7 separate regions of the Homo sapiens genome follow, and all the other regions are linked to region 6. The links come from fine-mapping of genetic effects on plasma protein levels. Region 6 holds a variant in brackets. A gene starts in each other region. All regions are shown on their forward strands.

Evidence for each region. PIP is the posterior inclusion probability: the model's chance that the variant is causal. Protein levels are from antibody-based Olink assays in UK Biobank. Linkage for the fine-mapping came from a reference panel and not from the study's own genotypes, which makes the PIPs less certain.
Region 1: it holds the start of CD14, and the variant in region 6 is fine-mapped to the plasma level of the CD14 protein (UK Biobank, PIP 0.98).
Region 2: it holds the start of CEACAM16, and the variant in region 6 is fine-mapped to the plasma level of the CEACAM16 protein (UK Biobank, PIP above 0.99).
Region 3: it holds the start of FETUB, and the variant in region 6 is fine-mapped to the plasma level of the FETUB protein (UK Biobank, PIP above 0.99).
Region 4: it holds the start of CHI3L1, and the variant in region 6 is fine-mapped to the plasma level of the CHI3L1 protein (UK Biobank, PIP above 0.99).
Region 5: it holds the start of MEGF9, and the variant in region 6 is fine-mapped to the plasma level of the MEGF9 protein (UK Biobank, PIP above 0.99).
Region 7: GPR37 starts here. The variant in region 6 is fine-mapped to the plasma level of the GPR37 protein (UK Biobank, PIP above 0.99).

What each region holds. Positions count from the first base shown.
Region 1 is chr5:140,631,606-140,635,669 of GRCh38, forward strand. It overlaps CD14 (CD14 molecule), which reads right to left and starts at 1,570. Exons shown (of 2, transcript NM_000591.4): 1 at 1,464-1,570; 2 at 127-1,375. The coding sequence starts at 1,466. The coding sequence ends at 251. It also overlaps a transcript of TMCO6 not described here. RefSeq lists enhancers at 213-714, 443-502, 715-1,214.
Region 2 is chr19:44,696,982-44,701,045 of GRCh38, forward strand. CEACAM16 (CEA cell adhesion molecule 16, tectorial membrane component) reads left to right here and starts at 2,170. Exons shown (of 7, transcript NM_001039213.4): 1 at 2,170-2,279. CEACAM16-AS1 (CEACAM16, CEACAM19 and PVR antisense RNA 1) reads right to left here. Exons shown (of 2, transcript NR_186815.1): 2 at 2,057-2,196. RefSeq lists an enhancer at 1-342.
Region 3 is chr3:186,637,982-186,642,045 of GRCh38, forward strand. It overlaps FETUB (fetuin B), which reads left to right and starts at 2,418. Exons shown (of 7, transcript NM_014375.3): 1 at 2,418-2,704; 2 at 3,049-3,159. The coding sequence starts at 2,480. HRG-AS1 (HRG and FETUB antisense RNA 1) reads right to left here. Exons shown (of 3, transcript NR_187317.1): 2 at 3,973-4,064; 3 at 3,528-3,642.
Region 4 is chr1:203,185,382-203,189,441 of GRCh38, forward strand. CHI3L1 (chitinase 3 like 1) reads right to left here and starts at 1,323. Exons shown (of 10, transcript NM_001276.4): 1 at 1,218-1,323; 2 at 935-964; 3 at 1-4. The coding sequence starts at 1,242.
Region 5 is chr9:120,712,377-120,716,440 of GRCh38, forward strand. It overlaps MEGF9 (multiple EGF like domains 9), which reads right to left and starts at 2,094. Exons shown (of 6, transcript NM_001080497.3): 1 at 1,382-2,094. The coding sequence starts at 1,982. RefSeq lists a silencer at 1,782-2,631.
Region 6 is chr8:125,485,733-125,489,796 of GRCh38, forward strand. The region is part of intron 2 of TRIB1AL (TRIB1 associated lncRNA); the gene reads left to right. Among named protein-coding and RNA genes, the nearest start is that of TRIB1AL, 21 kb to the left of the region's middle. The variant C/G (reference allele first, on the strand shown) is at 2,057.
Region 7 is chr7:124,764,215-124,768,278 of GRCh38, forward strand. It overlaps GPR37 (G protein-coupled receptor 37), which reads right to left and starts at 1,578. Exons shown (of 2, transcript NM_005302.5): 1 at 1-1,578. The coding sequence starts at 762. RefSeq lists a silencer at 1,590-1,719.

The DNA of each region.
Region 1 (4,064 bases), not on the chromosome of region 6:
GGACAGATAGGGTTTCTTAGGGAGTTAGGATGAAGAAAGCCTAAGTATGATGAATTCCCCATCCAGCACTGTGCCCAGCACATAGCAGACATCCAATAAAGGTCTGTTAAATGAATGACACGGACCCGTTGTTTAAGATTTTAATAAAGGTGGGGCAAAGGGTTGAATTGGTCGAAAAGTCCTCAACGTCCTGACGGGACTCCCCTGAAGCCAAGGCAGTTTGAGTCCATTCATTATTCTGTCTTGGATCTTAGGCAAAGCCCCGGGCCCCTTGGAGCAGCACCAGGGTTCCCGACACCCCCACCGACAGGGTCGAACGTGCACAGGCTGGGACCACGCCGGAGTTCATTGAGCCCTCGTGGGGGAGGGCAGTTCCAGGGACCAGGAAGGGATTCCCGTCCAGTGTCAGGTTATCCACCTCGGGCAGCTCGTCAGGCTGCGGCGCCCTGTTCAGTCTGTTGCAGCTGAGATCGAGCACTCTGAGCTTGGCTGGCAGTCCTTTAGGCACCTGTTCCAGCCCAGCGAACGACAGATTGAGGGAGTTCAGGGCGCTGGACCACATGCATCTCGGAGCGCTAGGGTTTACGGTGGCGCGCAGCGAGTTGTGGCTGAGGTCTAGGCTGTGGGGCTGCACACCTGCCGCCGCCAGTGCGGCGCACACGCCTGTGGGCGTCTCCATTCCTGTGTTGCGCAGCGCTAGATTCTGGATGGCCGGGAACTTGTGGGGACAGAGAGCCGCCATCAGTCCGCGTTCGCCCAGTCCAGGATTGTCAGACAGGTCTAGGCTGGTAAGGGCCGGGAAGGCGCGAACCTGTTCGCAGGAAAAGGCAGGCGAGTGTGCTTGGGCAATGCTCAGTACCTTGAGGCCTGGCTTGAGCCACTGCTGCAGCTCGGCGAGCCAAGAACGCCCTGTCGCCCACGACACGTTGCGTAGGCGCAAGCTGGAAAGTGCAAGTCCTGTGGCTTCCAGAGGCAGCGGAGGCATGGTGCCGGTTATCTTTAGGTCCTCGAGCGTCAGTTCCTTGAGGCGGGAGTACGCTAGCACACGCAGGGCGCCTACCAGTAGCTGAGCAGGAACCTGTGCGGCTCCCACTGTGAGCCGCCGCACGCGGAGAGCCTTGACCGTGTCAGCATACTGCCGCGGGTCGGCGTCCGCATCGACGCGCTTTAGAAACGGCTCTAGGTTGAGACCGCCGGCATGGATCTCCACCTCTACTGCAGACACACACTGGAAGGCTTCGGACCAGTCGGGCTGAGGTTCGGAGAAGTTGCAGACGCAGCGGAAATCTTCATCGTCCAGCTCACAAGGTTCTGGCGTGGTCGCAGAGACGTGCACCAGCGGCAGCAGCAGCAGCAACAAGCAGGACGCGCGCTCCTGGGGAGAGAGCAGAGGTCTAGGAGGCCCCATCCAACCCCTGTGGCTCCCGAGTGGCACGCGTTCGACCCCAAGACCCTACACTCACCATGGTCGATAAGTCTTCCGAACCTCTGAGCTCCGGACAGGCTCTGGAAGTGCTTTAGCTTCTTTCCTACACAGCGGCACCCGCCGGCTTCCAGGCTTCACACTTGTGAACTCTTCGGCTGCCTCTGACAGTTTATGTAATCCTGGGATGTCATTCAGTTCCCTCCTCTGTGAACCCTGATCACCTCCCCACCTCTCTTCCTCCGAGCCAGCCCCCTTCCTTTCCTGGAAATATTGCAATGAAGGATGTTTCAGGGAGGGGGACCGTAACAGGAAGGATTCTGCAGGGCATCTAGGGTTCTGTGTCTCCTGGCAGTGTCCTGATGACTCAGGCGCCCCAGGCGGTGAATGCCCTGTTGACTCGGGAGCCTAAGCCTTCTCTGGTGGGTGTGGGAAAAGGATGATCCTCAGTGCCTTAGGCCAGTACCATACTCTGCACTATCCAACCCCCCAATCCCCCTACCTTATATCCCAGAGAATCTACTTGATTCATTTCTTTGACTTCTTCCTTGTCTTGGTTTATGTTGATCTCCTGCCACCAAATCCAAGTCCCTGAATATCCTCAGATATTTAACTGCATGTTTTGTGGAAGAGATTGTGAACCTCATCTGTTGGCACCAAGGGGGGTAGAATTAGGTTCAAGAAAAGGAAGTTGGTCTAAAGAAAAATTCCCCCTTCCTTTTTTTTTCCTTGCTCCTTTGATTAAGTAATAACTTTCTTTCTTTTTTTTTTTTTTTTTTGAGATAGAGTCTTGCTCTGTTGCTCAGGCTGGAGTAGAGTGCCATGATCTCGGCTCACTGCAACCTCCGCCTCCTGGGTTCAAGCAATTCTCTGCCTCAGCCTCCCGAGTAGCTGGGATTACAAGTGCCCACCACCACACCCAGCTAATTTTTGTATTTTTTAGTAGAGACAGGTTTTCATCATCTTGGCCAGGCTGGTCTTGAACTCCTGACCTTGTGATCCACCCGCCTCGGCCTCCCAAAGTGCTGGGATTACAGGCGTGAGCCACTGTGCCTGGCAGTACTAACTTTCTTAAAAGTGGATGTATTTAACAGAGACACATTGGCCAAGTCTCTGGGTCACTTACACTATCCATTTTCTGTCCTGAAATTGTGAAGCAAGGTATTTTGAATCAGTTTTCCCACTTGCACGTTGCTCTCTCCTGCCCTCCCCTCAGTACAATCTCTGTGCCCTAGGAAGGAAGGGATGGGACTATGTTGAATGAGGATTAATTAGTAACTCACCAGTTTCGCAAAAAACAGACAAAAACAGAAAACAAAACAAAATGAAAAAAACAGCAAACAAAACAAAACAAAAAAACAACAAATGTCCCAGAGAATAAGGAGCTACGCATTTACAACAGCCCTCACAGGTCCACATCCCTAGACCTCTGGGGAAAGAACTATATGAAAGTCTTTTTTTTTTTTTTTTTTTTTGAGACTGAGTTTGGCTCTGTTGCCCAGGCTGGAGTGCAGTGGCGTGATCTTGGCTCACTGCAACCTCCGCCTCCCAAGTTCAAGCAATTCTCTTGCCTCAGATTCCTGAGTAGCTGGGATTACAGGAGCCCACCACCATGCCCGGCTAATTTTTGTAGTTTTAGTAGAGACAGAGTTTCACTATGTTGACCAGGCACTCCTGACCTCAGGTGATCCGCCCGCCTTGGCCTCTCAAAGTGCTGGGATTACAGGCGAGAGCCACCACACCCGGCCTGAAAGTCTTTTTTACTTTTATTTATTTATTTGAGACGGAGTTTTGTTCTTGTTGCCCAGGCTGGGCGCGATCTCAGCTCACTGCAATCTCCGCCTCCCAGGTTCCAGCAATTCTCCTGCCTCAGCTTCCCGAGCGGCTGGGATTACAGGCATGTGCCACTACACCCGGCTAATTTTGTATTTTTAGTAGAGATGGGGTTTCTCCATGTTGGTCAGGCTGGTCTCGAACTCCCGACCTCAGGTGATTCACCTGCCTCGGCCTCCCAAAGTGCTGGGATTACAGGCATGAGCCACCGTGCCCGGCAGAAAGTCTTTTTTAAATTCCCACTTCCTCTTTAATTGAGAAAGAAGTAGCTGCAGATTTGTCCCCAATCCAAACAAGAAGGCTCATCACTGCCCCCTGCGGGTCCTGTTGGGCATACCCCAATGCACTGGGCCATGCCCTGGTGCCATGCCAGGCCTCTGTGATATCCCTGAGGACCAAGATATGATTATATCTGACTCAAAGTCAGATAGCCAGTCTTGGAATCCCAGCTTTACGACTGAGGTTATGAGACTTGGGCCTCCCTTCTGTAAAATGGAGATGATAGTATTACCTGTTTGTGAGTAAAGTCTTTGGCACAGAAACACATCTTTTTAGTGTGGTCTTGATGACTAGTCTTCTTTCTCAGAGTCTCTGCTTTCAGAGAACTCAGGCCACTGAAGTCTGACACCTCATCATCTTAGGGGAGGCACTCTGGGTGGGGAGTTCCAAGTTAAGAGGGGCAGTGATGGTTCTGCAAAGATCTCCAACTCACAGCTTGATTCAACAAATGTCTATCATTTGTCTACCGAGTACTAGGGTTGGTAGAAAGCCCTGGGACACAGACATGACAAAGACAAGTCCCTGAAGT
Region 2 (4,064 bases), not on the chromosome of region 6:
GCATAAACCAGTGCCCCGACCACCTCCATCCCTTCCCCTGCTTTATTTTTCTCCACAGCATTGTCCCCACCTGTTCTAACACTGCTCATGTTTGTATTCGTCTATTAACTGTCTCCCCAATCAATAGGTCAGCTCTGTGTCTACCGTATTCACGGCTGTAACCCCACAGCGCCTAGCGCAGTGCCCGGCACATAGTTGGTGCTCCATAAACATTTGTCAAATGGTGGAGGAACAACGACCACTGTGCCCCCAGTACGTGCTCTGAGGCAGGCCCGGCACGGAACACTCCATGTGCCTATTTTGATCCTCAGAAGAGTCCCAGGGAAGTCAATGTCATGAACACCCCCCACCCACTGCACAAACAGGAAAAAGCCCCTGCCCACAAGAACCCCGTCTGCTTTCTGCGCAGCCCGGCGGCGCACAGCAGGTGCTAAAGAGCCTGCAGCTCTTGACTGAACCAAGGATCTGGGCTCACAGCCGGGAGCACCAGAGGAGGGGCCAGGGAGGTGGAGGATGGGGGCAGACTAGGAAGGGTGGATGTGACGATAGAGGGCCTCTAGAGCCCGGCCTGGTCACACTCCGCAGGCAGACAGCAGATCACCAGGAACCTGAGCCTCTCTGAAGACTCCTCTCTCTGTGTCATCCACACCTGGTGTCCAGTTCCACAAACATGCTGTGAGCCTCTGCTCTGTGCCAGGTGATTTGCTGGGCAGTGCTGGGGACACAGTGGTGACAGCCCAGCCGTGCCCAGCTGAGGCTCCCAGGCCAGTGGGGGAAAAAGACCCAGCCCCAGACAGCGAGAACCCAAGGCAGTCAGGGCTGAGACAGGGAATTCCAGGCCCTGAAGTCCAGGAGGGCTTCCTGGAGGAGAGGGTTTGGGGAAGGCAGTGGAATAGAGCAGAGGGAAGCAGGGATATTCTGGGTAGAGTGCAAGTGAAACAGAAGAACTGAAGCAGAGGGTTCCCGGAAGCAAGTGGTATTCTATGTAGCTGGTCAGGTGGGCAGGAGTCAGGCCGGGCAGGGCCTCCTGGGCTACAGTGAGGAACCTGGGCTTCCTCCCAAGGGCACTGGGGAGCCACAGCAGGTTCTGAGCACGGAGGGGCAGAGGCAGGTTTTTGTTTTGGAAAGAGCCTCTGTCTGCCATGTGGAGGGGCAATGGGAGTCGGGGAGACCAGGGCCAGAGACTAGGGAGGAGGCTGGTGGGGAGACAGGAGGACCCAGGCAAGGTGGGGTGGTGGAGTGGTCACCTAGACCAGGGCAGGGGCTTCAGGGAGGGAGAGAAGATATACGTAGAGTCAGTTGCCAGAAGGGGTGGCGTGTTCGGGGAGTAGGGGGAGGCATCAGGGATGAGGCCCCAGGTCTCTTTTCCCAGCGATGAGGTGGGTAGTGGCGCCTTCCCTGATAAGGGCACCAGGGGAAGATACACTTCTGGGGGAAGATGCCAAGGTCAGTTTGGGACAAGGTGAGTGAGAGGTGCCCAGGGACATCAGGGAGGCATCCTGATTGATACTGGGATGAGGTCCCAGTGCTCTGGGCCAGGACGCAGAAGAGTGAGGTGAGGTCACAGGTGGGGAGAGGGGAGCAGGAGGCGCCAGGACATCCTCTGTGCCTCTCACCTGGCCTCACCCGCACCTCCTCAGGGCCTTCTCCCCCTTGTTAGAGCCCTGCCCCACGAGGGCAGCCCAGGACACAGTGCTGGAGGCAAACCAGGACAGGTGAGCACAGGTGTGGCCCCCTGCCCGGAAGCAGGCTGCAGAGGCCTCAGAGGAACCAGGACTCAGAAGCCATCAGGATGCAGGTCATAAGAACACAGCTATCAGCAGCTCTGGCACCACAACCCCCTCGGCTCCTGCCCAGCATCATCTCAGAGACACCTTCCCTGTTACCCTCCCTCCACCCCAATTTAAAGTAGCAAACCAGGCCAGGGGCAGTGGCTCATGGCTGTAATCCCAGCACTTTGGGAGGCCAAGGTGGGAAGATCACTTGAGGCCAAGAGTTTGAGACCAGGCAGAGCAACATAGCGAGATCCCATCTCTACAAAAAATAAAATGGCAAATCCCCTTTCTGACTTTATTTTTCAATCTGACGTGGAAGATATTTACCTTTCCTTTATTTACTCCGCAAATGTCGGCCCCCTGAGGGCAGGGATTTCATCCGTCTTGTGCACGGCTGCATCCTCAGCGCCTAGAACAGCACCTGGCAAACAATAGGTGCTCATTCAGTATTTGTCCAATAAGTGAATGAGTGATTTACTGAGCATTTACTCTGCGCCAGTCGTGGTAAGTACTGTACTTCACATGTGTATCTACTTAATCCTTTCAACAGCCCTGTGATGTGAGTACTATTGTTTTCCCTATTTTACAAATAAGGAAACTGAGGCTTGGCAGAGTCCATAAATTGCCCAGGGTCCTGGAGGTAGGAAACAGTGGAACTATGTCCAGAGCCTATACTTTTTTTTTTTTGAGATGGAGTTTCACTCTTTTGCCCAGGGTTCAAGCAATTCTCCTGCTTCAGCCTCCCAAGTAGCTGGGATTACAGGTGCCCGCGACCACACCCAGCTAATTTTTGTATTTTTAGTAGAGACAGGGTTTCACCATGCTGGCCAGGCTGGTCTTGAACTCCTGACCTCAGTTGATCCACCCACCTCGGCCTCCCAAAGTGCTAGGACTACAGGCATGAGCCACTGCGTCCGGCCATGAGCCACCACGCCCGGCCAGAGCCTATACTTTTAATAACAGGCATACCAATCAGACCCACGTCCACCAGGCTCTGGCTTAAATCCCTGACTTGTAGCCTCTCACTAACTGCTGTCAACAAACCTGAAGTAGGGTCCATATCATCTCTATTTTTTTGTTTGTTTTTGAAATGGAGTCTTGCTCTGTCACCCAGGCTGGAGTGCAGTGGCAGGATCTCGGCTCACTGCAACCTCTACCTCCTGGATTCAAGCGATTCTCCTACCTCAGCCTCCCTAGTAGCTGGGATTACAGGCATGTGCCACCATGACCGGCTAACTTTTATTTTTTGTTTTTGCTTTTGTTTTTTGAGATAGAGTCTCACTCTGTCACCCAGGCTGGAGTGCAGTGGTGTGATCTCAGCTCGCTGCAACCTCCACCTCCTGGGTTCAAGAGATTCTCCTGCCTCAGCCTCTCGAGTAGCTGGGACTACAGGTGCACACCACCACACCCAGCTAATTTTTTATATTTTTAGTACATACGAGGTTTCACCATATTGGCCAGGCTGGTCTCGAACTCCTGACCTCGTGAGCCACCTGCCTTGGCCTCCCAAAGTGTTGGGATTACAGGCGTTAGCCACCACACCCAGCTAACTTATATTTTTAATAGAGACGGGGTTTCGCCATGTTGGTCAGGCTGGTTGCAAACTCCTCACCTCAGGTGATCTGCCCATCTCAGCCTCCCAAAGTGCTGGGACTACAGGCACCTGCCACCACGCCTGGCTATTTTTATTATTATTATTTTTAGTAGAGATGGGGTTTCGCCATGTTGGCCAGGCTGATCTCGAACTCCTGACCTCAAATGATCCGCCTGCCTTGGCCTCCCGAAGTGCTGGGATGACAGGCATGAGCCAGTGCACCCGGCCATCATCTCTATTTATCAGAATAATAAATGGAGACTCAACAAGGGACTGTCCCCAGCCCCACTTTGGGTAAGTGCAGAGCTGGTGTCAAAACTCAGCTCTCCTTGGCCCCAAAGCCTCCGAATACGCCCATTTGACAGAGAGGGGAAAACAAGGCCTCCGAAGTGGGAGAAAGAGAATGTGAACTTCTGAGCACTTTGCAGGAAGCCAACAAGAAGGAGAGCCCCAAAGAAAGCATGTGGCCATACAGTTTCCTGCCCTTCTGTCTGGGTTTGCACACAGAGCAGGGCTCAAATCCCCTCTCCCTGCAGGAACCCGGACAAGTGGGAGTCCCCACCTAGCTCATCTCCATCTGCAAAGGGGGGTCCTAAAGGTGCCCACTTTACAGGGTTGTTTTGCCATCCGCTGAGACAACACCTGTAGGTCCCCTGCACTGGGTGGGGCTGGGAAAGGTGCAGTCACCTTTTACT
Region 3 (4,064 bases), not on the chromosome of region 6:
TGGGGTATGCCATAGTGTGAAACAAAGAATGTAAACTGTGCCTTTCATAATTTTTATGTTAATCACATATTGAAATTATAATATTTTGGATTGACAGGTTAAGCAAAATATTGTTAAAATTAATATCATCTGTTTCTTTTTACTTTTCGAATGCAGATACCAGAAATTTTAAAATTAAATATGTAACTTGCATTGTATTTCTATTAGACACACTGGATTCAACAAAACCTAGATTGATCTATCTCCACAGCCTTGTTCTTCACTCCTGAGCAGAAATTTAACTTCCATGCTGATACTAAAGTTGTTCCCATATGTGATGGGAACCAAACACAAGTGTACCTGGGTTGGGCTTCTAGGGAAAGAGGAACTCTATTCTCTTTCTACAGGCAGGTGCAACTGTGCATGTATACATATGCTGGGAGTGCCATTGTTTTATGAATAAGGAAACAAAATGCTGTGTGGCACACCCAGTGTCACAGGCCCTCTTACCGTGCAGTGGAAGAGGTGGAATTTAAACCCAAGACTGCCTGACACCAAAGGCTGGACTCTTCCCCTGCTTCCTCTCCCAGGGCTCCCATACTCCACAGCCTAGGAGAAGGCCAGCTCAGGTTGTTTGAGACTGGGTTGAAACCCAGGTGCATAAGTGGTGGTGCACGATTTCCATGTTATTGGATCTTTTTATCTGTTTGAGTCCTGCCTTTTATTTTAGTTGCACTCATGGCCTTCACCTATATAAGTCTAATATATTCCTCAGGTCCCAGACCATTCTCCTCCTCTTTGTTCTGCATCCTCAGGCCCCAGATCCTTCTCAACCTCTTTCTGTACGTTGCTCAAGCTCAATGAATGTTTGTCTCCTCACTGGCTGAAGCTAAACCTTTGTTGTGCCCCAGAATCTGAATGTCTGGTTTCTGTACCCATTTTGCTAGTATCGTTCCTATTTGAAAACAATGCCTACAGCCCACATCCACAGAGCTGGGATCTTTAGATTTGGGTTTTTCAATCAATCCTCAAAAACTATTTCTCTCCAGAAATTAATTAGGGCTGTGCCTCAGTTAGTTTTATGTAGTTATAACAGAATATCAGAGACCAGGGAATTTATAATGAACAGAAATTACTTTGGCTCATGGTTTGGGGGGCTGGGAAGTCTAAGATCGAGGGGCTATACCTGCTGAGAGCCTTCATGCTACATCATAACATGGTGGAAGGCATCACACAGGTGAAAGGAAGAGAGAAGGGGACCAAACACATCCTTTTATCAGGAACTCACTTTCAAGATAATGGCATATTCCATTCATGAGGGTGGAGCCCTCATCAGGATAGGATAATCCTCTCAGCATTACACAATAGCCACCACTGTGTACCAGCAAGCACACAGAAGGATTCAGCAGTTCCTAAACTTATTTGAATGCAGAATCCTTGGACAGGGACAGGAAGGAAGAGAAGGGCTAGGAGTAGGGAGAGAGTTAGGGGGTGGTTACTCACCTCATGGACTAGGGCTTTATAGAATGCCCTTCATGATAACCTCTTCTAGAGGCTTCTTTCCCATTTTGTCTCTTTTCTCTCATGACAAACTACTGCTGATATGTGTTTTTTGTTGAAATACAGTTTTTAAAAGATAATTGTCTTTTGTATGGTCCCAATAAGTAGAACCTTTCTGAATCACAAATAGAAGCTAAAAAAAAAAAAAAAAAAAGAAGGCAAGAGTCCCAACCAATGTGTTGCCACCCACCTGCCCTTCAGTATCTTTCTTTTAGCAAGAGTATGGGGCTTTAGTCTCTTAATGAGCTTGCTTCCATACATATGCATAAAAGGAAGAATAGGCTTGAAATACAATGTGAGAACTTTTTATATCTCTTTGACTTTTTCCCCTTAAGTAAAGTCATTGTTTAAAAATAACTTAAATGATGATAAGTAGAACATTTTCCACCCAGATGGCCAAAGTGCTTAAGGAATCTCAACTGTGCTTCTGGCAGATGACTGTGGGGTTCAACTACCTCCCTGATCTAACAAGGGCTTTGCACACAGAGTGTCAGCCAGGAAGTCTGAATTCACCAAGCACCACTGGGACATAAGATAACTATTAGAGTGGCCAAGGAGACCTCCACAGCAAAGGTGTTAGGGGAGAGGGGGAGAATGGGACAGTCCTCCATATTCCTATTCAGGAGGGGACCTGCAAATCAGAATCTAATCATAAGAGCCTTGAACAAATGTTATGATTTCTCAGGAAACAGTTGGGAAACTTAAATTCATTTGTATGTACAGGTGGATATGAGGTTGCTCAAGGGTCTAAGGTTAGAATCATTGGGAAATGCTATCCAAAGTACTGACTTAGGAAAATCCAAGTTCAGAATTCAAGGTGAACTTGGTTAGCCCTTCCAGTTGTAACAAAACCGCTCAAGTCTGCCTTAAAGAGCCTTACAAGCCAGCCAGTCCCTGCAGCTCCACAAACTGACCCATCCTGGGCCTTGTTCTCCACAGAATGGGTCTGCTCCTTCCCCTGGCACTCTGCATCCTAGTCCTGTGCTGCGGAGCAATGTCTCCACCCCAGCTGGCCCTCAACCCCTCGGCTCTGCTCTCCCGGGGCTGCAATGACTCAGATGTGCTGGCAGTTGCAGGCTTTGCCCTGCGGGATATTAACAAAGACAGAAAGGATGGCTATGTGCTGAGACTCAACCGAGTGAACGACGCCCAGGAATACAGACGGGCAAGTAGGGACAGTTCCCACTCTGGGGCAGGGATGTGGGCAAGCTGGAGAGACTGGCCAGGGTGAGGGAACCCAGAGACACCCTGGCAGGTGTTTTCTGTATTGGAAGCCCTGCCGAGAACTCTCTGTTCTCCTCTGCCAGGGTCAGCAACAACGCACTTATTGTTAGTAAAAACAAGTGTTAACAGTGATCCTACTCTGACACTTGTGTCAGATTTAATGGTTTACGGGGAATCTTCACAAATATTCTTTGGCTTTGCCATAAAGCAGGGGTTTTTTTGTGTGGTCTTTCTAGGTTTCTACTTCCTGTGAAATGTATTGCATTTCTCTACCCCTTCCCACAGGGTGGCCTGGGATCTCTGTTCTATCTTACACTGGATGTGCTAGAGACTGACTGCCATGTGCTCAGAAAGAAGGCATGGCAAGACTGTGGAATGAGGATATTTTTTGAATCAGTGAGTGCTTGTTTTTATAAACCATTAAGGGCCCTAGGGAAAGCAAGTAGGTACACTCTTTCTACAGGGTCAAGGGTGCTCAATATCTGTCATCTTTTAAATGGCCCACTTTATAATCTCCTGGCAGGTGCCCATAAGCTTATTCTAATGCTCTAGACAGAACAAAGTTTAATTCATGAGAGGGGTTTCTGAGAAGTCCCATTGGGGTCATGCAGAACAGAATGGAAAAGTTGCCCCAAGTTGTGTTTTTACCTCCAAGACCTTCCGTTAGGCTCTGAACCAGTGTTTCAATTGTGAGAAAAAGACCTGAGGTGTGAATATTCTGGACGTGGGGTTAATGTAGACTGCAGAAGTGATGGAGGTAGAGCTTTGTCTATTTGTTTTATTTTGCTTTGTTTCAATAAACTCCGATGCCAGGTTTGAGGGGAGGAAAATGGATGACTTGCAGTATGAAAGCTCTCAAGGGCGCCGTGTAAGGATTTCCTGAAACCACAGAGCATAATAAAGGGCCTCAGAATTAATCTTCTAAAGATGATCATAGAAGAGACTTGAAAATAGATAATCCATTTCATTTCATTCTTAATTATCCTGGGATGATTTTCAGTAATTGATATAAAACTTTACAGTGTGAGTACAGAATAGTGATGTAAGTGTTTAGAAGAAAACTATTTGATCAAGATATTTTCCTAATCATGTAGCCAATTGGTCAAACTGTACCCAACTTGATTTTGAAAAGTGAATATCCTGTTGTGAATTATATTTGTTATGGTGACACTAGCTACTAAAACACAGACACAAAAACTGTATACTCACTCTAACATGATAGAAGTTCATTTCTCACGCATGTAAAGTTGAAAGTAGAAGTTCCTGATTAGATGGGTGCTTTGCTCCAGGGGTGATTTGAG
Region 4 (4,060 bases), not on the chromosome of region 6:
GAGCCTGAAGGAGAAGTCTGGGATGGGGCCCGGGCCAGGATTCGGCAAGAGACCTCAGGCTGAGCCCAGAGCTGAGCACCAATGGGGTGTGGGGTTGGGTAGGGAGGAGTGGGGTGCAGATTGTGAGCAAAGTCAGAATTCTTAAATGAAAGGAGCTGGTTCAGGTCCCCCTGCCTCTGGGGAGTTCCCTGACTGGTGAAAATAAGGCCTATTCTGAAAATGCTTAGAAAAGATCCAATGCAGGGGATGAATACGCTACAGGCACTGTGTGGGGGAAGGGTAGGAGCTGGGGAATAAGGATGAAATGGGACTTGGTGCCAGCACAGCAGGCTTCCTGGAAGCAGTGGCTTTGTGGGAGGGGAAGGCCCAAGATAGCCTGTGTCACAGATGGCCCTGGCTTTCAGGCTGGCACCTTTAGTGACCTGCAGTGAGGTCCTTCATCCATGAGGGACTCTGGCCCACCTTTCTCTGCCTCCTGGTGAGAGTGCCTCTAACTTGTAACCCACCCGGAATGGCAGTCCTGTGCTCCCTCGGCATGTCCCCCAGGCTGGGGCACAATATCACAATGGACCAGGAAATCCTTCCTCGCCTCTAATTCTGTTTCTCCTGCTGCAAACAATGTGGGCATCACTCATCCAAGCAGCTACTGGGCAACTGTACTAGCGGCTCCCAGGGGCTGTTAGTCAAAGCCTTCACTGAACCAGGACCTTTTAAAGTTTCTTATTTTGAGAATTTTCACATATACCAAAGAGTATAGCAAAATAAACATCCATATACTCCTCACTCCAGTTTAGCAAACGTGACTATTTCGAAGTCATTGGAAGCACAGAAGAACCTGGCAAAGTGTTCCCTTGGAGCTAAGACCTCCTCCACACCTGCCCTGTGCCCTCGCCACGCCTCTGGACTTAAAAGTGGAGGTGGAGGGATTACTCACAGCACTGGAGCAGCACCAGGACCACAAAGCCTGAAGAGAAATCCAGGATGAGACCCCTGCAAGTGCATCCTGCCCTTCCGCCCTGCTCCCTCCCCCAAGCAACTGAGACCCACCTCCCCCACCCCCACCTCCTGGTTGCAGCCTCAGTCCCTCCCCTGGCTCTGCTTCTCCTCCCCCTCTGCCCACTCCCTTAGTCCCTCACCCAGCAGGCAGATGGCTCTGCGGGCTGTCTGGGCCTGAAAACCCACAACTCTGATGGATTAACCTTGGCTAGCCCAGATACCTGTTTGAGACGCCTTCACACCCATTCTGGCTGCAGCAGAGCAGGGCAGGGTGTGGCCTCTTCCCTTGCCCACGGCTCCTGGTGCCAGCTACCTAGACAGGGCCTCTTCCCCAGGCCCTGTACTTCCTTTATATACCTGTCCCACTCCACTCCCCGACGCGGCAAACCAGCCCTTTTATGGGAACTGAGCTATGTGTCAATGAAGGAATCACGAGGCTGGCAAGTGGAGGCGGGGGAGTACTATGGATTACCAGAGGAGGGTTGAGAAACCGCAGAGTTTTGAAAACTTTGGGTCAGGTCTTCATGAGGCACCTGCCAGCAGAAGAGCCACTAGGGTGATGATGGGGGGCTTCTGGAGATGTGACTCAGCCGCATTTCCCAGCCTTCCTCCCACTCCTGCACCCCACCACTGGCCTTTCTTGCCAGCAATTTCCTGGCTTTTCTGGCAGCCTCTACCTTTGCATCTTCAGCATTCACTCCAGGCCCCTGGCCAGGTGGAAACTGGGCACAATTTAGTTACGTAAGCCACAGTGCCCTAAACAAGGCTGTTGTTTTCTTCCCAGGCTCAGCATTGCCCTGCTTGACCTACCTTCCTACCCTCCCCCTCACACTTTCTGTCTTCAGGCTGGGTAAGGGCCAGAGAGCCTCGGGAGGAAGGAAAGCAAAGAGCCTGAAACTGAGCGCTCCCTTTTGGGCCCGTGTCTTTTTTTTTTTTTTTTTTTTTTTTTTTGCAATTTACATGCTGATTATTTAGAGGGAAAGACAGGGAAATTCCCAAGAATGCTTTAAGCCCCGGTGCTATTTTGCTTCTGTTTTGAAATTCCCATAAAGAGAGAGGATCTTTTGCAAGCTCGGTGCTGCAGTGAGGCACCATGGAGGAAATACAGGCCCTACGGGGCGGCTGCACGAGCATCTGACATCAGTCAGCTCCCCAACTCTCTCAGTGAGGCTTTGGAACCCAAGCCTGATGATACAGCCCCTCTCTAAATCCTTCAGTGATCTCTCATCACTCCTAGGACAAGAACAAAACTTCTTAACGAGGCTCCCTGCCTGATTACGTCCCTGTTTGTGGATACATTTTTTTTTTGGCCAAATATCCAGGACAACTCCATTCTTTGCAGGCTTAACATTAATTAATAGGCAGTGAGTGAAAAGTTCAGAACTCCAAGAGGCAGAATGGGTCCAAGGGCTTCTCAAGAAAGTACCTTTATTTTTCACTAATGTTAGGTAATACTCTAATTTTTCCAGGCTGGTTTTGCAGCTCTCTCGGTGAGGTCTCTCTGCTCTCTCCCTCTTCTCTCCCTCTCTCCCTTTCTCTTCCTTTAAAACTCAGCCAGTGCCTTCCCTTCATTGTAAGAGAGGTGGACAAAAAGTGGCTTGTCCAGAATCACGCTCGGTGAATACTAAAGAGGCATCACTTTTCCTTTTTAAGATGACTGCCTCCTTTTGTACCCAAGATGATTGACAGCAATGACAGTCAATGATAGCTTCTTCTGGTTCATTTGGGGCACTGAGAGGAGGACTTCTAATTTCTAATAGTGATATTATGAAGTGGCATGCAGATGCAAAATTTTTCATCACAGAGCACAGGATGTTAAGAAAACACCTCCTATTTTCACTATCTCCCTTTGTTAAAAATTATTTCATAGGCTTAGATTGGCCCAAGCCTTGTTGTCCTATGCTCCCTCAAGCTCAGTTTATTAATTCCACATGCTCTGCCTGAAGGCAGCTTTGTAACAACAAATGGCCAAGATACCCCCAGGCCTGTGTTAGCAGGATTGGCCAAGGGTCTCATAGGCTCACCACCTCCCAGCCTTATCTCAGGCCATGACCCCCACCCTCCCTATATTCCACTCATGCTTATATGTCTTCTTTTAAATCCTTATATTTGCTCTACTGACTCCCGCCACAGGGCCTTTATATATGACATCCACTTGCCTGTAAATAACGATGAAAGATCTGAGATTTTATGCTACTTGCAAATTAATGACATAACTACAGTTTCGTGGATGTTGGCAGAAGACACGAGACTCCTAGGTCAGAGACAAAGGACTTTATTATCCATGGTACAGCAAGCAGCATGAACTTCATGTTAGGGTCAGTTCCCCTTAGCCCTCAGGTCTCACAAGGGCAGTGTTGGAGGAGCCCAGGTAGATGCCATGAATGCAATGAGTTACATCACAGCAGAGGAATCCCTAGTTTAAGGAACTCAAATCTTTCATGATGAGCAGTAAGCCTTCCTCACCTTGGCCAGCCCAAGATAAGGGAGACATTATCTTTATTACTGGACAGTAAACAAATCTGCCTTTTGGTCTGGAGGGGGGACGCTATTTCTATCTTCCAAGGCTGTTTGCTGTACAAACATCACTAAAAAGATTGCCTAGAACAAAGAAGCCAGTGCCTCTGCACATAAGCTGTGCAGGAAATGCAGGCAACCCATGGAGAATTGCGGTTGGAGAATTGCGGATGGAGAATTGCAGCCTAACACTGCTCTTCTTTGACTGCTTTATTCTTCCTCATCCTTCAGATTGCAGCTCAGGAGTCACCTTGTCTGCAGAAAAGGCAGTCTCCAGGTGACAGAAAACCCGCTATAGGGCTGTCAGAGCACTTTGTACCTCTCTCCTTAACACCTGACTCAGTTATAATTTTATATGTTGTGTGTGGCAGTGGATGTTTTGTTTGCCTCTCTCACTAGACTATAAACTCAGTAAAGGCAACGGCTGGGTCATTTTATCCACCTTTGTATCTATCCCCAGTGCTTGAGACATAGTAGATGCTCAGTAAAGTACTCGTTGAATAAATGAACAAATGATCTCAAAATGGTGCATAACTTCACACTCTTA
Region 5 (4,064 bases), not on the chromosome of region 6:
CCTAAGCTTACACAGCTAACAAGGGGAAGAGCTAGGATTCAAACCTAAGAATAAACTCCAGAGTCCATACTCTCAACCACTATGCTTCCTGTCTCTCAGTAATATGTCAATCTCTCTATATGAAAGCCAAAAGGGGTTACAGGTAAAACCCAGCTAGCTAATGCATTCCTTGAAGCTGGAAGAGATGCACACTTGGCTTTTTATGGGTGAATAATCCTACTTATGTCATTGCCAAGCTCCAACCCAAGGATCAAGACTGTATTAAGGTTCATAACCATGTGGGAAAATTCTCTACACACTCAATTATAGTCCAAAGTCCATACCTGACTCCACAGTAAATCACTAAGCCTAAGATTTAGGTCAGAGACCCAGCTAGACAAAGGATTTGGACAAACCTCCACCCCAACTCAAAGCAAGACAATTCAGAAACTTTTGTCCAAACGTTCTGACAAAGTAGGCTTTTGTTTTGTTTTGTTTTAGTCCTAGGCCCACTTAAGATTTAAACGGGGAAAGAATACGAGTTGTCTTTAACTTTGCTTGAAGACTTCAGCAAGAAAAGCCTTTTCTACGTGGGCTCAAACAGAAATTGGCATATATCAGCATCAGCAAAGTTGAACATCCTGGCTTAAGGAGACAAAAATAGGCATCCTTGCTTAAATGGTGTATTTGGCCAAACATGTTGACCTTATAATTGTGGAAGAAAAAAATGGTGCGAGGAAGAGATTTAACCTAATTTGTAAATGTGCTCAGCCTAGATACACACCTGTCCCAAATGACCTACTGAATCCACTTATTTGCAGGGACAACATGGATTACAATGCCTTTTTTGTTTTTATTTTTTGCCCTCAAGTGGTCCATACTACTGTTTGTAAACAAAATCCTCTCACTACCTCTCTTCCACCTGTCATACACACACATCTGATATTTACATAAACAAGAAGAAATGAACAGGGAAACTGGAGCTTTGGGAGGAATTCCTTACCCTCAGCTTTTGACCCAGTGGTTGAAGGAGGTACTATGCGGGCTTTCAAACTTCCCCAAATAACCCAGGCAGAGAGGCTGGGTGCGCGAACCCAACCCAAAAGTTTGCGCCCATTCTGGTCTCTGAAAAAGGCCAGAAAGCCCTGTTGGGAAGAAGATGAGATGCCTTCCACCCAGCAGCCACCCCCTCCCGAGGGAGCACAGCCCACGGGGGACAAAAGACTTTCCAGATTGATCGGGGGCGGGAGGGAGACTAGCTGGACCTGGGATCCCCCCTCGGGAGCCGGAACCTGGGGTGTCTTTGGGGTAACAAACGATAAATTATAGGCAAGAGCCCAACCCTAGATTGCCGGGGCTGAGGTGAGGACGGGTCCTGCCCGAGAGGGAGCGCCGGACTCACCTGGAGGAGGCGAAGAGGGGGCCTCGGTGGCAGGTGGGGTGGGGAGGACGCTGCTGTTGCTGCTGCTGGGGAGATCGGGGGTCGGGGTCCGGGGAGTCGTGGGCGCCGGTACGGTGGTCGCTACAGGGGTGGTCGGCGCCGGGCCAGTGGTCGTCGAAAGGGTGGTCGGCGCGGGTCTGGTCGGCGCCTGAGAGGTGGTCGAAGTGCGTTCCGCCGCCGGAGGGGTGGTCGGCGAGGGGCCGAGCGGCGCCTGAAAGGTGGTGGAAGAGGGTCCAGCAGTCGCCCAAAGAGGGGTGGTCTCCGGGGACTGGGCTGGAGAAGTCGCAGCCAGGGGTCGGTGGACGGTGGCGCGCGGGGGCCCGGTCCTCGGGGCCTGGGCCGTGGGAGCCGTCGCCCTAGGGAAGGGGTGGCTGGGCTCGCCCCGCAACCCGGGGCCCGGCGACGCGTCCACCTGCCCCGCGGCCCCGCCGCCACCGGTGACATTCCCCGCCGAGGCGGCTGAGGCGACGGCGGCGGCGGCGGCGGCGGCGGCGCAGCACAACAGGGCGAGGCCGCCCAGGCTCGGCAGGCTCCTCATGGCGCGCTCGGCTCCGCCATTCATTCATTCAGCCAGTCGGTTGGTCAGTCATCTTCTCCTCGTTGCAATCCGACCAAGGAAGCCTCCGCAACCGCCGCCGCCACCGCCACCGGGCGCACCATCGCCACCTCCCTCTGACAGGCGGCCGGCCCCGCGGGCGGGCCCCAGCGCGGAGGGAGCGACCGGACCGAGCGCGGACCGCCCGCCCTCCTCGATTGGCAGCCGCGCCTAACCAATGGGAAGCCACAGTCGCCCACGTGATCCGCCCGCTTCCCGGCCTCTTTGTAGCCCCGTAGGCCAATCAGAGGACGTCCAGGAGAGGGGGCGGTCCGTGAGGCGGGAGAAGGGTGGTGCGAGCCCAGCTCTAGCCCGCCGGGCTCGCGGCGGCCCCGGCTTTGTCTGCCCAAAGAGTGGGGCGCGGGCCTCGGGCACCGGGCGCCGCGGAGCAGACAAAGGATGCGCCCCGCGCGGCAGACGCCGGGCCTAGTCATCTGCTCCACCGGGCTGCGAGCACGAGCGGGGGGTGGAATCAGCACTCGGGAGCATCCCCGCCCTCCTGAACAATGGGGCGCCAGCGCCGCACCCCAGCTCGGGCGGGGACCGCGCGGGAACCCCGCGATGGGAGAGGGCAGCGGCAGCGACGATGTAGAGCTTGGCATGCCCTCTGCTGCTCCAGAGAGCCTGGTCGCAGCCTTGCGAGGTCTCTGCCGCCATTCCCATTTCAGAGATGGGGAAGCTGAGGCCCTTGCTGAGGGCCTCCCTGAACCGAGACCCACGCCCTCACCAGAAACCTGCTGTGGGCCAGGTGTTGTGCCAGACTGGACAAGGGGGCGGGACCGGGCGGTGGAGACCCCTGAGGGCAGAAGGTGCAAGCTTCCTGCGTGGAGGAGACAGGCTCGCAAGCACACTTACCTAAACCCCGGGAAGAATAGGATCAGACAGGGTTGAACCTCAACTTGATGTCTTTTGCTGAATGGTTTTGTGGCCTGAGCGCGGTTTTTTCACCACTAAAATGGAGATGATAGGACACCCCTCACCCCCCACCCCCCTCACAGAGCTGTTGTGAGAATTAAGTCATGGACGTAAAGGGCTTAGCCCAGAGCCTGGCCCACTGTTGTAACCCTCATTAATGCTAACTATTCTCAGCATTTGCGCCAGGGCAAGCCCAGGATTAGAAAGCAGCCCCAGGCCACAGCCCTTCAGTGCCCCCAGAGCCTCCGGCTGGTTGCAGGGGTTGGGGTGGGGCTAATAGCCGAGCTTGACCCTGGATGACACTAAACCCTGAATCAAGCTGGAATTCGGGCACGCAGCCTCGCATCATCCGCCCAGGATCCAGAGCTAGGTCAGGCGCTGCTGCTTCGGCTCAGCAGCTTCCAGAGGAAGCCAGGCAGGGCGGGTTTGTCATCTGATGGGGCTTAATTCAAGCCCCACTGCTAACCCAATCCCGGCCTCCCCTACGTGATGTTTGGCTTTGTGCATGGTTTCCCATTAGTCATTGGTCTTCAACCAGACCAGCAGGATGAGATTTATGTGTGAACCCGTGTATGTTAATTAAAGCATGCATTTATTTTCCTGCATGAGTAGTGGGTGGGGGAGGCTGTGTATGAATGCATAAACATGTTTGTGAGTCTGTGTGTATGAGTGTTGTATGTATCTGTGTGAGTTTATGAGTATGGGAGCTAGTATCTATTTTCATATATTGTGTCTTAATAATCTGTGCATGTGTACTGGTGTGTGTTTTTGTGTATTTTCTGTGTTTTTGCATTTGTGGTTATCTATGGGTGTGTCTTGATAGGTCTATGTATATAAGACAGCGGGAATGAGGGAGAATGTGAGTGTTCTGTCTTCAGGACCAATATTTAGCAAGCACTAACCAAGGTTCTATTTTTACTTTGCTTTGGGAGGGTGGACAGGTCATGCCAGTCCCCCATATTCCCTTGCTGACCCTCCCTGGCCCTTCAAACCCCAACCAAAATGTCACATTCTCTAAAAGACATTCCTGGATTTGAGTGGGAATTAATCTCTCCCTTCTCATTTCCCCACCACCCCTTGTTTATGCATTGATTACAGCCCTGATCTACCAATCTACCTCTCCGTTGCCTCTTC
Region 6 (4,064 bases):
TTTGGTACTGGTAAGGAAGCTTGGGTAAAGTGGCTGGCACTCAGGCAGCCTACCAGAGCTCAGTGGCTTTCTCCCAGCCTCCCATCAGATGCCTGAGGCCCCCTCCCTCCCCCACACCCCTGGGCTCTTTTTCGAAACACATAGAAAAGGGTCAGGAAGATGGGTTCTCTTCGGGCTAGAGATGTTTACTGGGTCAGGCTGATGGATTGCAAAATGGAGATTGGGCAAGGGTACAGAGGGCAGGACCCAGGATCTCAGGGCTATGGTTGGACCCCAGCAGACCCTAAGGCCATGGCCCAGTGCCCTGTCAATCTAGGTGATAGGTGTTCCTCAGATCCCATCACTTCCGAGGGCAGCGAAGCTCTGAGGGCCCCTTAGAGCCCACAGCCCAGGTGGTTGCGGGGCTTGAGGCACATACAGCGACGCCTGGCATCTAGTGAGTGCTCGCCCATGCTGGCTCCCGTCATTACCGAGTTCTCTGGCTGGCATTGCCATCCACCAGCTCCATCAGAACACGGCCCACCTGCACCCGGGCGCTGCCTCCCTCGGTGACTGGTCCCACCACGCACCCACGGGAGGGTAAAACTGGCTCTGCGGACATCCCGACATCCCGACATCCCCACATCCCGAGAGGGGCAGGGGGAGCTCTCAGGCCCTAAAATAGCTGCTGAGCAAGACTTGGCTTCTCTCCTTTGGGTTGAGAGTTTACCCGGCTTTTTGGAGATGCTAGAGTCTACACTGAGCAGGTTTCAGCAGTCAAATGTGTCCCTCCATTCCAGGAACCGAGGTGTTGGAATGGTAGCAATGGACATGGACAAATGGTGGAAGCAGGAGGCGGAAGAGAATCCGCTCAGAAGTTAAGAGGCCTGGACTCTCACACTGATCACGTGACTCGCACCTTCCGTTTCCCAGAATAGCGGCCACAATTCCTGCAGAATCCCTCCTGAGGGGTCTTGGAAAGATGCAAATGATGTAATGAGCAGAAGCAGGGGATTGACTTCCAAGCTCTGCCACTTATTAGCTTTGTGGTCACTTACGCCCTCCGCAAGCCCCAGTGTTTTCACCTGTACAATGGGGGATTACAATACCAACTGCCAGAGTGGATGCAGGTGGCGTGCAGACTCTAATCACAGCAGTGAATGCAAGAAGGAAGGTGGAAGGTGGTGGCGAGGTCCTGAAATGGGCGTCCATGTGGACTTGCACACACCGTGACAACCCCAGAAAATGGTTAGTGTTTTACACTCTTTCATCTGGATTTAAGAGCCAGTCGAGCATGAGGTGTCACTTTGCAGTGTGTTTAGGAGTCTCCCTGGTGAGACTGGTGTAGCACCAGACACTCAGGCAAATGCTGCCCAGTAAACCACAGTGGTCAAGAACGTGGATTCTGGAGCCAGACTGCCTAGGTTCAAATCCCGGCTTTGCCTCTTTCTAGTTGTGTAACATTGAGCAAGTCACTTAACCTGTCTGTATTTTATTTCCTAATCTCTAGAGTGGGGAGAGGAGCAGTGCCCTCCCCTCTCCCATAGGGCTGTTGTGAAAATTGAAATGAGTTAATGAATGTTTCAGAGCACTTGGAGCAGCGAGTTGTATCAGTGCTTCGTAAGTAAAATAAATGACAGGTCATCCTGGGCCCTTCCTCAAGGCCCAGCTCCCTATGTCTAGCGACTATCAGGGGGTGTAGACAAGGAGAAAGTAGCTTTTATTATTTATTTATTTCTGAGACAGAGTCTCACTCTGTTGCCCAGGCTGGAGTGCAGTGGTGTGATTTTGGCTCACTACAACTGCTGCCTCCCGGGTTCAAGCGATTCTCCTGCCTCAGCCTCCTGAGTAGCTGGGATTACAGGCATGCGCCACCACACCTAGCTAATTTTTTTTGTATTTTTAGTAGAGACGGGGTTGCATCGTATTGGCTGGGCTGGTCTTGAACTCCTGACCTCAAGTGATCTGCCCACCTCGGCCTCCCAAAGTGCTAGGATTATAGGCACGAGCCATGGCACCCGGACTTATTTTTTATTTTTATTTTTGTAGAGATGGGGATCTCACTGTATTGCCCAGG[C/G]TGGTCTCAAACTCCTATCCTCAAATGATCCTTCTGCCTCGACCTCCCAAACTTGGGATTACAGGCGTGAGCCACTGTGCCTGGCCAGAAAGCAGGCATTTAATCACTGTTATCCTCAAATGGTTAGGTGAGAAAAAGGGAGGAAGGTAGAAATGGCTTGCCTACTTTGGGCTTTAAAGAAGTGAGGTCTGTTTCCTGCACCTACCACTTTGGGAAATATTTGTTTTTTGGCAGCAGGTAACCAGAAACCAGAGCTGGTCAAACTGGGGCACACACATACACACCACCCTGCCCCAATCTCTGGTTTAAGCTCTTCTGGCCATCTGTTCAGGCAGGGTGGGAAAACTTTCACAAAGCAGGCAGGTCCCAGGCCCCCCAGGCCCCAGGGGCTGGCCTTAGAGTCCAAAGACCTGATTCTGGTTCTAGGCTAGCTTTGGTCCTGAGACAATGTCCTCAAAGCTCTCTGAGCTTCCGTCTGCCCTTTGGTAAAATGGGGATTGTCATTAACACACCATTGGAGATAACAGATGCAAACCTGTTGTAAACAGGAAATCTCAGTATGCTCAGAACGGTGGGTAAGGGGTTATCGGTGAGTAGAACTTCCAGGGCACCAGGCAACTGTCCGCTGTGAGATTTCTGCACAGCCTGGCCTCTGGAGGTGTCCAAACCTTCAGCTGCTGGTGTTGAGGCTCAGGAAGCCTGGCCTCTGGAGGTGTCCAAACCTTCAGCTGCTGGTGTTGAGGCTCAGGAAAACCTCACATGCTGGAACTTGGCAGGCAGATGACTGGCCATGGGCATTGTTGGGTGAGGCCATACCCATGATCTGCAGTCAGGAGACCTGAGTTCTTTTCTGGATCCTGCCACTGTGTGGCTTTGGGCAGGTCACTTCTTTGAGCCCCATCTCATCTTCTGCGAAATGAGAGGATGGTGGCAGGAAGCAATGCAGTCTGGCAAGATATAGGCCAACGAGGTAATATATGTGAAATAATTTTGCAAACCATAGGGGTTACAGCATGGAAATAGCCCTGGTCAGGAGTTTGGGCTCTAGCCCTGCCTCTGGAGCAAGCATGATGTGTGACTTTGGGCAAGTCACTGCTCCTCTCTGAGCCTCATTTTCTTCATCTGTAAACTGAGAGTCTGGGACTATATCAGTAGTTCCCAAACTGGATACACGTTAGAATCAACCTGGGCCAGGTGCGGTGGCTCACACCTGTAATCCCAGCACTTTGGGAGGCTGAGGTGGGTGGATCACTTGAGTGTAGGAGTTTGAGATCAGCCTGGGTAACATGGCGAAACCTTGTCTCTGCAAAAAATACAAAAATTAGCCAGGCATGGTGGTACTCGCCTGTAGCCCCAGCTAATTGGGAGGCTGAGGTGGGAAGATGGCTTGAGCCCAGGAGGCCAAGCCTGCAGTGAGCCATGATGCACCACTGTACTCTAGCTTGGGCAACACAGTGAGACCCTGTCTGAAAAAAAAAAAAAAAATCAACCTGAGAGGATGGATATAAGAGATGCTGATGCCCCCACTCCATCCCAGAACCACTTAATCAGAATATCTGGGGTGGGGCATTTTATAAGCTACCCAGGTGTTGCCAGTGTATAACCAGGATTGGGGATATCTGGTCCAGGTGATACAGGAGGTTCCTTTTGGCTTGAGCTTGTTTGATTTCTAGGAAGTTCTTGGGGTATAGAGTTCACAGATGCTTCCAACACTGGGGCCACCATCCTCCTCCCTGCTGAGAATGATAAATTCCTGCCCAACCGTGGAGCCTATGATCTCAACTCTGGCTGTGCACTAGAATTTCCTAGGAAGCTTTTAAAAACCTTCCATGACTCAACCCCACCCAAAGCAAGTTAATACAATCTTTGCGGATGGTTCAGCCCTAGTTTGAAAAAGCTCCCCAGGTGATTCTAATGTGCAAAGTGGCGAACCACTGCTTTGAGAACAGCCAATGAGCCAAGAAAACAGACAGCCCTCCGCCTGGCCCCTTCCTTTTCCTCCTCAGAA
Region 7 (4,064 bases), not on the chromosome of region 6:
CAGCGGGTAGAAGGGGTTCTTCAGTCTCACACGCCGGTTCGTGCTGTTTCCCCGGCGGGGACCCCCAGGCTCATGGATTCCTTCACCCAAGGATCCATTCTGGGCCAGCGCCCGGCCCGGGAGTGCAATTGTCCACCCTTCGTGCCCCGCCAGTCCATTGGCCGTCTTGGACAGGGGCTTGTGGTGGGAACCCTGGAGTTTCCCGGCTCTCCTTGGCCAGTAAAAAAGATCGCTGGCTCCGGGGACTGTCTTCACACTCTGCTCCTGGCTACGCCCGGAAATGCCAGCGCCTCTGGGACCCTTCTCTTCCTCCTCTGAGATCTGAAGGAAGAGCTGGAGGGCCGTGGGGTTCCCTCTCCCCAAAGTTTCAGAAGGCTCCTGACCCCGAGCACCTTTCCACCTCCAGGGGCCAGGTGGCCTGGTTGGAGGTCCCGGGGGTCCGGCTGCCGACGCCTCCGCCCCTCTGCCTGCAGCCGGGTCACGGCCCGGGGCCGCCGGCAGGTCCCAGGAGGGTCCCGCAAGAAACGCTGCCCCCTGCTCCTCCCTGGGTGCTCGGGCTCGCAGAACGTCTCTTGCAGAATTTCCCGGTCCCCAGGCGTCCCTGCCGCGGCGCTGGATCACTGTAGGTGCACAGCTCTCCCCCAGACAAGTTTCGTTTCTGGACGCAGGGGCGACCCCGAGGGCAGAAGAGGCAGACACCTTGAGCAGTAGCAGAAGCAGTAGCCGCGACATGCGGGCGAGAAGCGCGCCCGGGGCTCGCATGGCTTGGTGAGGGCACACCCGGCAGCCGCAGCTCCTGCTTAGTTAGGATCGACACCTGCTGCCGAAGTTGCTGCTGAGAGTTAGGCACATGTCACATACTCACCCCCGCCCGGGTAGCGGGGAACCGGAGATTAGGGTGATAGCGGAAGATCGGTCTTGGGGGTCACACACACGCCCCCTATAATCCTTCCTCCTTTGGCATCTTGTGCATTTCTCAGCCAAGTTGAGTCCCAGCAAGGTATGCCCTCCAAGGTTCCTAGAGGGAATAGGCTACTCCCGGTGGCTGACCTTGAAAAGTTGCAATCAACACCTGACTGTTGATTACTGTTGAGACTCGGGGGAGCCCAGACGAAGCCCCACACTCCTCACTGCCTTTGGGTGGGGGTGGTGGCCTTCTTGGTAACAGTTGCTCTGCCTATTTACATCCTTTCGACAGCGTTTGATCCAGTTGCAAGCCGAGGTCTCTAGAGGAAAAGAAAAACAAGTCCCCCTCCCCCAGACGACTCGCAGTCACAACCCCGCTCCCAGCTCGCTGGAAACACGTTGCAAACAGTCCGAAGCAGCGCTGATGCGCCGGCGAAACTCTTGCCCCACCTAACCCCAGCGACTTGCGAGCCTACTGCTGCCGAGGAGAAGCGGGATTCCAACCCCGCGGCCACTGCCAAAGTTGCTTCTCCTCCAGCTCAAAGTTGACGACGGGGCGAAGCAGGCTGCTGGACGGCGTGCCGCCGCAGAGAAGGAAATCGTGGGGAGAAGGGGGAGAAGAGGGCGCCGCTCGTCGGTGGACAGTGCCGCTAGCCGCGGGAGCTAGTCACTGCCACAGCGGGCTCAGCCCGGACGGGAAGGGTGGTGCCTGGAACCGCCGCGGGCCAGGCAGTGCGCGGCCGGGAAGGGGAGGTGGCCCGGCCTCGCCCCCGCGCTCCAGCCGCTGCGCGCGCCCGCGAAGCTCGACTCTCGGCTCGTTGCCTCCTCCCACTCCTTCGCCTCCTCCTCGGAGAGATACTGGTTTGTGGGGAGACGGGATCCCCTGGTGGTTCACCACTCACTAAACCCACACACGTTTCATTCAAGCCATTTGTAGCGGCTTCCACTCGGAGGAGCTGGGAGGGAACAAGGGCGGAGGCGCGGAGCCTGCGCGGCTCGAGGCTAGGGATGGGCGGGACAGGTTAATTCCCCAGCTGTCGAAACCAGCCTGACAGGTCCCCGAGCCCGGGCTAGGGGCGGGTGCGGGGCGGGAGTGGGGGGTGGGGGTGGGAACGGGAATATGAGAGCGGTCGGGGGAGGGAAGAGAGGAGGGTAGCAGGGGAGTGAGCAGCAGGGTCCCCTCCAATCTGTTGCGGCTGATGCGCATGCCCAGGTCTCAGCTCTGGGGGGCGAGGGGCGGGGCGGGGGAGGGGCGGACGGGGGTTGGGCCGCGGGGAGTAAGAAGGTGAAACCTCACCTCCTCAGGTATTCCCTAGAGATAGGAGAGAATGGGAGCTCAGAGGTGTCAGTCATAGAGAATTACCAGTTCCAGGATTGAGATGCAGAGCGAGAAAGCTCAGGATGCACCATTACCTTTAACACTGAGTTGGGAAGCATCCTACCATGGGTTACTTCGTACCACCCAGAGCATAGTGAGGTAGTTGTATTTGATGAAGTAGTGGGAAATGACTGGAGGCAGAAAATTACTCGAACAGCACTCCCAGCACGGCTGTCCATGCCTTTCCAACCTTTCTACTATATCCCACAACCCTGTCAAAACTGTCAGGGCATAGCTAATAAAATAGACAAATTAATGAAGAGAAAATGATAGAGGAAGAAATAAACACATTCTGAATTTTTTTTTTAAACAGAGTCTTGCTGTGTCGCCCAGGCTGGAGTGCAGTGGTGCGATCTCGACTCACTGCAACCTCCGCCTCCCCGGGTTCAAGCGATTCTCCTGCCTCAGCCTCCCAAGTAGCTGAGACTACAGGCACCCGCCACCATGCCCGGCTAATTTTTTTTGTATTTTTAGCAGAGACGGGGTTTCACTATGTTGGCCAGGCTGGTCTTGAGCTCCTGACCTCGTGATCCGCCCGCCTCGGCCTCCCAAAGCGCTGGCATTACAGGCGTGAGCCATCACACCCGGCCTGAATTTTTTTAAAGCAACACATCTAGAGAGGCAGGAGAAAACACAATGGAACATATGATACCAATTGTGGTAAATAGAATAATGCCCCCCCAAAAAAATGTCCGAATCCTAATTCCTAATACCTGTGAGTATGTTACCTTACAGAGCAAAAGGGATTTTGCCAATGCAATTCAGCTAAGACTCTTGAGATGGGGAGAGTATCGTGATTATCCAGGTGGGTACACTATAATCACAAGAGCCCTTACAAATGAGAGGCAGGAGGGTCAGAGTAAAAACAAACACAAGCCAAGTGATGTGGGCAATCTCTGGAAGCTAGAATGGGCATAAAAAAGGATCTACTAGCCCATTTGAGACTTCTGACCTCCATAACTGTAAGATAATGAATGTGTGTTGTTTTAAGCCACAAAATTTATGGTTATTTGTTGCAGTAGCAATAGTAAACTAATACACCATTAAATCTAAAAATGGAGACAACAGGAATAATTGTATAGAAAAACATAAACTACCAAAAATAGTTCAAGAAGAAAATTTTCAGAAACTGTAATCGAACTATAACATTAAAGAAATCAAATCATTCATCAAGATCTACCCAGAGGAAAGTGCTAGACCTTAGCATATCCTGCGGAATAAATATACATTTATACAAAATGTTTTAAAGCTACTCAGTTCATTTTGTGAAGGCAGAATAACCTTAATGTCAAAATCAGACAAAGCCAGAAATAGGAAAAAATATAAGCTAATAGCACACATTCATTTGTACATTAATTCATTCATTTATATACACTAACTCATTCTCTCAAATTCACTACTTCATTAAAGAAATATTCTGCTCAAGTTACTTAGGTCAGAGCAGTGAATAAAATAAAGTTCTGCTCTCACTGAATTTATATTTTCTTGTATACTCATAAAAAGGACAAACTAGGCTTATGTGTATCACCAAGACTGAATCTCAGAAACATAAATGTAAGGGAAAAACGTAGAACTTGATGTGTTAACTATATAATGCTACCATTTGTGTAGCTCTTAAAATGCACATAAAACAATTTGATAATCATACATGGTGTATCATATAAAATATGTGAATGGAATAAATACAGATCAACTTCAGAATATTAGTCACCTCAGGAAATAGAAGAATGGTCATGGGATGGAAGGAAGCTTCTACTCTAACTGTAGTATCTTGTTTCTT